2 linked regions of the Homo sapiens genome follow. The protein of the gene in region 2 purifies or fractionates together with the protein of the main gene of each other region. This does not show direct contact. Each region holds a gene or a part of one and is shown on either strand. Other genes may lie near its edges.

The links. Proteins that work in one complex are often made in the same cells at the same time.
Region 1: the proteins of CCND2 (region 2) and SPECC1L purify together in Homo sapiens (affinity purification with mass spectrometry; one large-scale study listed by BioGRID and IntAct). This does not show direct contact.

What each region holds. Positions count from the first base shown.
Region 1 is NC_000022.11:24,413,831-24,416,034, reverse strand, and holds part of SPECC1L (cytospin-A), read right to left. Parts: intron 1,502-2,204; coding exon 1,412-1,501; 3' UTR 1-1,411. UniProt on the Homo sapiens protein: Involved in cytokinesis and spindle organization. May play a role in actin cytoskeleton organization and microtubule stabilization and hence required for proper cell adhesion and migration.
Region 2 is NC_000012.12:4,279,960-4,283,956, reverse strand, and holds part of CCND2 (G1/S-specific cyclin-D2), read right to left. Parts: intron 1-3,997. UniProt on the Homo sapiens protein: Regulatory component of the cyclin D2-CDK4 (DC) complex that phosphorylates and inhibits members of the retinoblastoma (RB) protein family including RB1 and regulates the cell-cycle during G(1)/S transition.

The DNA of each region.
Region 1 (2,204 bases), on a different chromosome or scaffold from region 2:
ACCCCGCTTCCACTGGTGGCTGGTCTTCCTCATGGTGCTATGCAGGTGCCAAACACAGTTATATTCTCAAAGGTACAGGTCTTGTCTGGACATTGTTCAAACCAATAGCTACTGCGTTAGGCACACGGGAGATCCCTATTCCCAAAAATAGCTGTTGAGTTCTGGCCTGAGAGCATCTCCAGTGACCACCTTTAAATAAGGCTTTGGTTCAAACAGCATGGACCCAGCACCTGGGGAGGGTGGGCACAGGGGGCATGGACCCAGTACCTGGGGAGGGCGGGCATGGTGGTAGGAGACAACTCAACCACTGAGTCTTGGAGGTCCTGCCTTGGCCACGGAGGGCAGTGGCTGCCCTCACAAGAAGAGTTAAGGCACTTTCTTTAACTCTGGCCTAGGAGAATTATGTCTTAGTGACTCAGTGAGTTTAAATGACACTGCCTGGGCTCCCTAAAGTTGTTTACTTTTCTCCTATTTCCTGCTTTATTCCTTGCTCTCACCATGCTAATGTACAGATGTTGTTTAGATTTCTATGCTTATTGAAACAATGTAACTTTGGTACTAACAGAACAGGAGCGACCTTTTCCAGCATTGCTCGTAACAAAACAAAAATGTTAACTAGAAAAACTCCTTATGATGAAGAAATCTAAAGCCAGAGCTGGGACTCCAAACCCCTTCCAGGCTGGAAGACAGGTCGCTGAGTCCAGGCAAGGGGCCCCCGTAACTGCTTCCCGCCAGAAAGCCCAGCCGCGTGAGTGCAGCAGCAGCACCCCAGCCCTGGCGTGCCCGCACCACGCCCTCTAGATACTCTCCTAGCTCAGGCTGAACACGCCTGGATTGTGTCGGCCGGGACAGCCCCGTCAGGTGTGGGGCAGCTGACCCACGTCTGTGGTGAACATGCTCCTCCAAACTAGGACGGTGAAGGGCCCAGGGCGCTGGGAACTGCCAGGCGCTGACTCTCCTTCTGGGTTCTCACCAGCACCGGAACCCACCCCAGCCAATAGTCAGGAAGTGCCGCGGCCGAGCCTTCATCAACCCTAGTGAGTTTCCCACAGAACTGAATCCCTTTTCCCAAATTCAGCTGTGCATGAGCCCTTTTTGTTTGGTGCCCTGGAGCACTAGTGTAGTTCAATATTCTCTTCAGAAGGAAAACTCCAGCAGCCACCGGCCTGCAGGATGTGTGCTGAGCCCACATGACCTGAATGGACGGGTCATGTGGGAGGGGCCCTGGTGGGAGCTGTGGGCCACACGGCTGAGTTCTTCCAATACGGAAGCCCCGAGCTGGAGGCTCACACGCTGTGGGGCAGCCCAGAGTTGCTGGAAGCTTTACAGGGGTGCGTAGCTAATGGCGTCGGTGTCGCTCGGTCGCTGTGGAGGGGTACCCCCGCTATTGGGGCGGCTCCTCCCGGCATGCTCAGGTCTCAAAGTACTTGTAGATCGCCGTCACATACAGCATCACGTTCTGCCAGTCGGGTCGTTCAGTCCGTACCATTTCATTAATGTCCTGACAGACAAGGAAGACGCTTGGTTAGAACTGCAGGTCACCTCCAGGCTGTGCCAATGGGCTCTGCCATAGCAACATGGGCTCTTGGAGTTGGATGGGGCCTTGAAATATTTTCTAGGCCTAATTACACATTTTTAAAGCCTGGCCAAGAATGCTTCCTCCCTGGGCATCAGCATCGTCCCCAGGCCATCCACCCCTGCCCCAGAGCCACAGGCAAGGTGCCTCCCTGCTCACGGCTCTGCAGGATGGGAAGGGTTTCATCCAGTCTGGGCGGAGGAACTTCCTCCCTCCTCCCCGCGCCTGCCTCTCTTCTTAAACCACTCCTTGGGGGACCCTTCTGAGAGCCCTTCTCAGCCCCAGGCACTGGCCTAGGAGAATTTCTCTCTGTCGGGGGCTCCCAGAACCAACACTCTGACGGCCTTCACCATGGGCAACAGTCTGAAATCATCCAAGACTCTGCTCTGTAACTGTGCTCTGCTGAACGCCAGTGACCTGTGACCGGTGAACTGATGTTCTAGGAAAATAAACTTGGGAAACCGTGGACCCACCCCCACCTCACTCCAGTGTCTCACAGCCTTTAACACGAGACAGAAGGCCTCAAAAAGTGACACACTGCTGCTGCTGAAGGCTCGGGGAGTGACCCAAGGGGCCGGCCTGAGAGATCCTTCCCTTCCCATGGGTGACGAGCACAGGACGTGTGGCT
Region 2 (3,997 bases):
GTGTCCCAGAAATGACATCATCGAGTCCCCAAAGCCTCCTGCTGCTTTGCAGAACTGGGAGAAAGTGCAGCCCCACAGGGGAATGAAAAGAACCCCATGAACACTCAGCGAATGGAAGAGAGAAGTTGGCAACTCTAACCCAGCACATTCCACAATTCATTGAGATGCAGTTCACCCGAGCCAAGGAACGATGCCCAGATAACCAGGAACACCCGACATTCCCGCCTCCCTCCTGGCAAAATGGTGGAGGCAAAGGACACACCTTAGGGGAATCCCAGCTGGACCCACAGGCGCCAGGGGCAGCTCTGCTGTGGGCTGCATGCTTGCTTATGACGGCGGTGATGATGGTGAGGTATTAATAAAAAGGAGCTTGAAATTCATCTGTTTCAAACATCTCCTTTTACAGGTGAATCAATGAAGTCTTGGGAGATGAAGTGATCTGGCTGATGTCACTCACTGTGAGTGTTGGGCCTGGGATCCGGATGAGACTTTGAGACTCTGGATGCAGAGCTCTTCGTAACTTACTGGAAGCTGACCAGCTCCTCAAAGTCACCTCCCATATACCACTCAGGAGGACAGGGCAGCCTTTCACGTCGGAAGTGGGAGAAGAGCCCCAAAGGTGGCGCTCTGGCTCAGGAATCAAAGGAATTGGGTCCCAGCCGCAGCCCCGGCACCAGCAAGCACAAAAGGCTTATCCTCCCAAGGATGCCCTGGGAGCCTCTGGGGGTCCCGCTGGGCTCCCTCACCTGGGCATGGGCCCTGAGAAGTGCTCCATTTCATCAACTTGGTATCTGCACTTCTTGGTAGGATTTTACCAAATAAAGAGTTCAGAGCTAAGTAAGTTTAAAACCACGGAATACATGGTCCTGCCCAGTACATTTAGCACCCATCATTTTGGCTATGGTGGCCGAGGTCTTGGGGTGCAGGGGTGATGGCTTTGCTTCTGTTCACCAATAGGGGGAGAGAGATACGCACTCTGACGCTGAAGAAGAAAGGGAAGGCCAGGTCAGGCTTTCCCCATCTCTCTTCTCCAACCTGCAGTCAGGTGGAAGTTCAAAGGGCCAGAACCAGAGTGTTCACAGGCCAGGGACGTCACTGGGCACGCACCTCATCTGCCACCCCCATAAGAGGACCAGCATACCCTGTCCTTGTGGGGCAGGGCTGCCATGGCAAGGGAATGCCCATGCAACTGCAAGGCCTGCTGGGAGGAGCTGGGGAGGGGGCTGGTTGGAGGGCGATGAGCAGCCTGCTACCCATTCATCTTACAGCCAGAGGGAAGAGCGATGGCAAGCACCACACTGCCTGGCTGCTTGTCCCCACAGGGCATGCTAACGACTCCCCCTCAGTCCCATGACCTCGCGGCTTCAGGGGTAGCTCAGAGACTTGCAGATGGAAAGACGGGTTTCCATTCTTCCTTCCCAGCACCCATCAAGGCGAAATCTCCCACTCTAGATCAAGGGCCAAGTCATCGAACTTCTCTGGGCCACCACTGTCTCCCTCTCACTTGGCGATGGAATCTGAGGGAACACCTGTAGGTAAAGCCAGGGAAGGGGCTAGGACAGCACAATGGGTTCTAGTCAACAATGGGGCTCTGGCCTTGGCGTGGGGAGGCCTGGGGGTGGCTACCGTGTGTGGCACAAATACCAAGGTGCAGCATCTTAGGGTGGGCTTCTAGTGAAGAAAGAGGGGATGTGGGTGCCTGGAGAGGGAGGGTGAGCACCTCCCCCTACCCGGTGCCAGGTGTAAACTCAATGCCATTGGCTCTGCTAGACTAACTGGAATCATCCACCGAGCATGGTATCACATCTCAACAATCTCCCAGTGCCAGAGTGCGAACCCAGGTCATCTCCAATGGCCTTCTTTCCTCGCTTGCAGACCTGGGTGTTCTATCAGCAGAGCGGCAACCAGGGAAGCTATGGCTCAGTTCTGCTTCCCCAGTTTTGGAAACTCCAGGAACAGGAATGCTAGGAGCTGTAGTCAGGAAGATCCCCCGCCCAACCCACCCATGCCTGCACTGCCCAGGACCTGCTGCAGAGGGATACCAGCAGCTTGCGGCCCTTGCTCTTCCAGAAGCCATTTTAGGCTGAGCAGGGAAGGAAGGAGGGCTCCTCTCCGCCTTGCCACCATCTTAATCCAGAGCCCCATAAAGCAAGACCGCCACTTCGCCACACTTACGCGGCCCCTCTATGTTCTCCTGCTCTCCCTTCCCCTTTCACACACAAATACGCTCCCCACACACTGCAGAACCACTGCCAGCTCTTTCACAACCAGCTTTTCCCATCAAATAGCTGCACGGCCTGAGGGTTGGCGGCCATCTCTCGGGACCCCCACCCTCCACCCACTGTGGACCTCCGAGACCCTGGCCGCAGGTGTTTCATCAGCTCCAGGACGGAACATCCAGGACTGCGAGAAAAGGAGGGAAGTGTGCGATTTGAGGAGCAGGTGAGGGCAACAGCTCGGGTTGGGGAATCTGCATCTCCTACCTCTGCCTCTCAGTCACTCTGTGCCCGCTACTGGCCAGAGTCCTGGGTCCTTGCCCATTCATCACACCCTGGCCCCACAATGCACAATCGCCTCTCCATGGAAGGTGTTTCCTTCAAGAAAAGCGGCCTTCGGTGTTTGTACTGTGAGGCCGACTGTTGTAAAACTCCACGCAGCCAGGATTCTATGTGACTCAGTCAGTTGCACAAACCCAAGTGCAGATGAGGGAAAGCAACTTCTTTCGATACAGGCCCCTCCTTTCCAGACCCAGGAAACTGCCGAGGACCTACCTGTGCTCTGCCCTGTCAACGCCTGAGGCTTAGTGCCTAGCACACCATTTTCATGTGGTTTGGGGGTGTCCTTTCCTAGTCCCTGACCAAAGCTAGTTCAAGGCCCCCAAAACACAGTCTTTATAACTGCCTCTGTATCCCTCTGGGCCTCTGTCCTCAGTCTCTGAATCCCAGGCTCCCTACTCTGGCCCCGGAGCTGGCAGCCAGCCCAAAGATCTGGGCAAGAAGGCCACGGGTGGGGGATGGGATCCCCGGTTTTCGAGAATGGGTCTAGACGGAATCTGGGGATCTGCCCACACCCCGGTAACTCCACCCAGCACCCCTACCCCAATCAGAGATCAGAGAGGAGGAAGGGGCAGTTAGACCCCAAAAGATCTGTTAGTCAAGAGACAGTGTTGAGCAGAGCTCTGGCTATCAACAGCTGGGCAGTGGGGGAGTTTAGGGTCGGGGGTCAGCTGTCCTTGGGCCAGAGAGAAAGAACTGGCTGACCCCTCCCCCACAGTGAATCATGATGAGAGAGGAAGGAGACAGCCGAGCCTGGGAGACAAAATGACAGGTCACTGGAGGACTGACCTCTCGGGCCCGGGCCAGACAGCAGAAGGGAAGGAAGCCAGAGTGACCACTATCCAAAAGGCAGCAGGGGTCCACAGGGGTCCTAAGAACCGCCCCCAGGGCTGCAGGAAGGATAACGGACTCTCCCACCAAGGGGCACAGGGCGCATGTGCACGCCATGAGGCCTGGCCTGCATCCAGGAGAACAGGACTACAGAAAACCAGCAAGGGGAAACCTGTGCCCTAGATGAACAGGCAGGGGGCCGGGAGGACTCCACACTCAAGCCTGCAAGTGCAGAACACACAGGTCCTGCTAGAAACACGTAAGGGCAGCCAGAAAAGGAAAGCCATCATATCCACTTTAGTCGGAACAGTTAAAATCAGGGTGAAAATCGGAGATGGTAGCATTTTCACAATTAGTGAAGGTCCAACCTACACTTCGGTTTACAAAGCACGTCCACGTGCATCACCTCTTTCTGATTTTAATTTTCCTAGCTGCTCTGAAAAGGCTGTAGGATGATGTATCAATAGGCTTGTTTTGGAGATGAAGAAGCTCGGGTTCAGAGAGGTTAAGCAGCCAATTAAAGGTCACTCACTGATATGCAGCAAAGCCTGACTTTTTGACTGTGAGCACAGGGCATATGCACTACATCGTACGTTATATAATCATCCGTT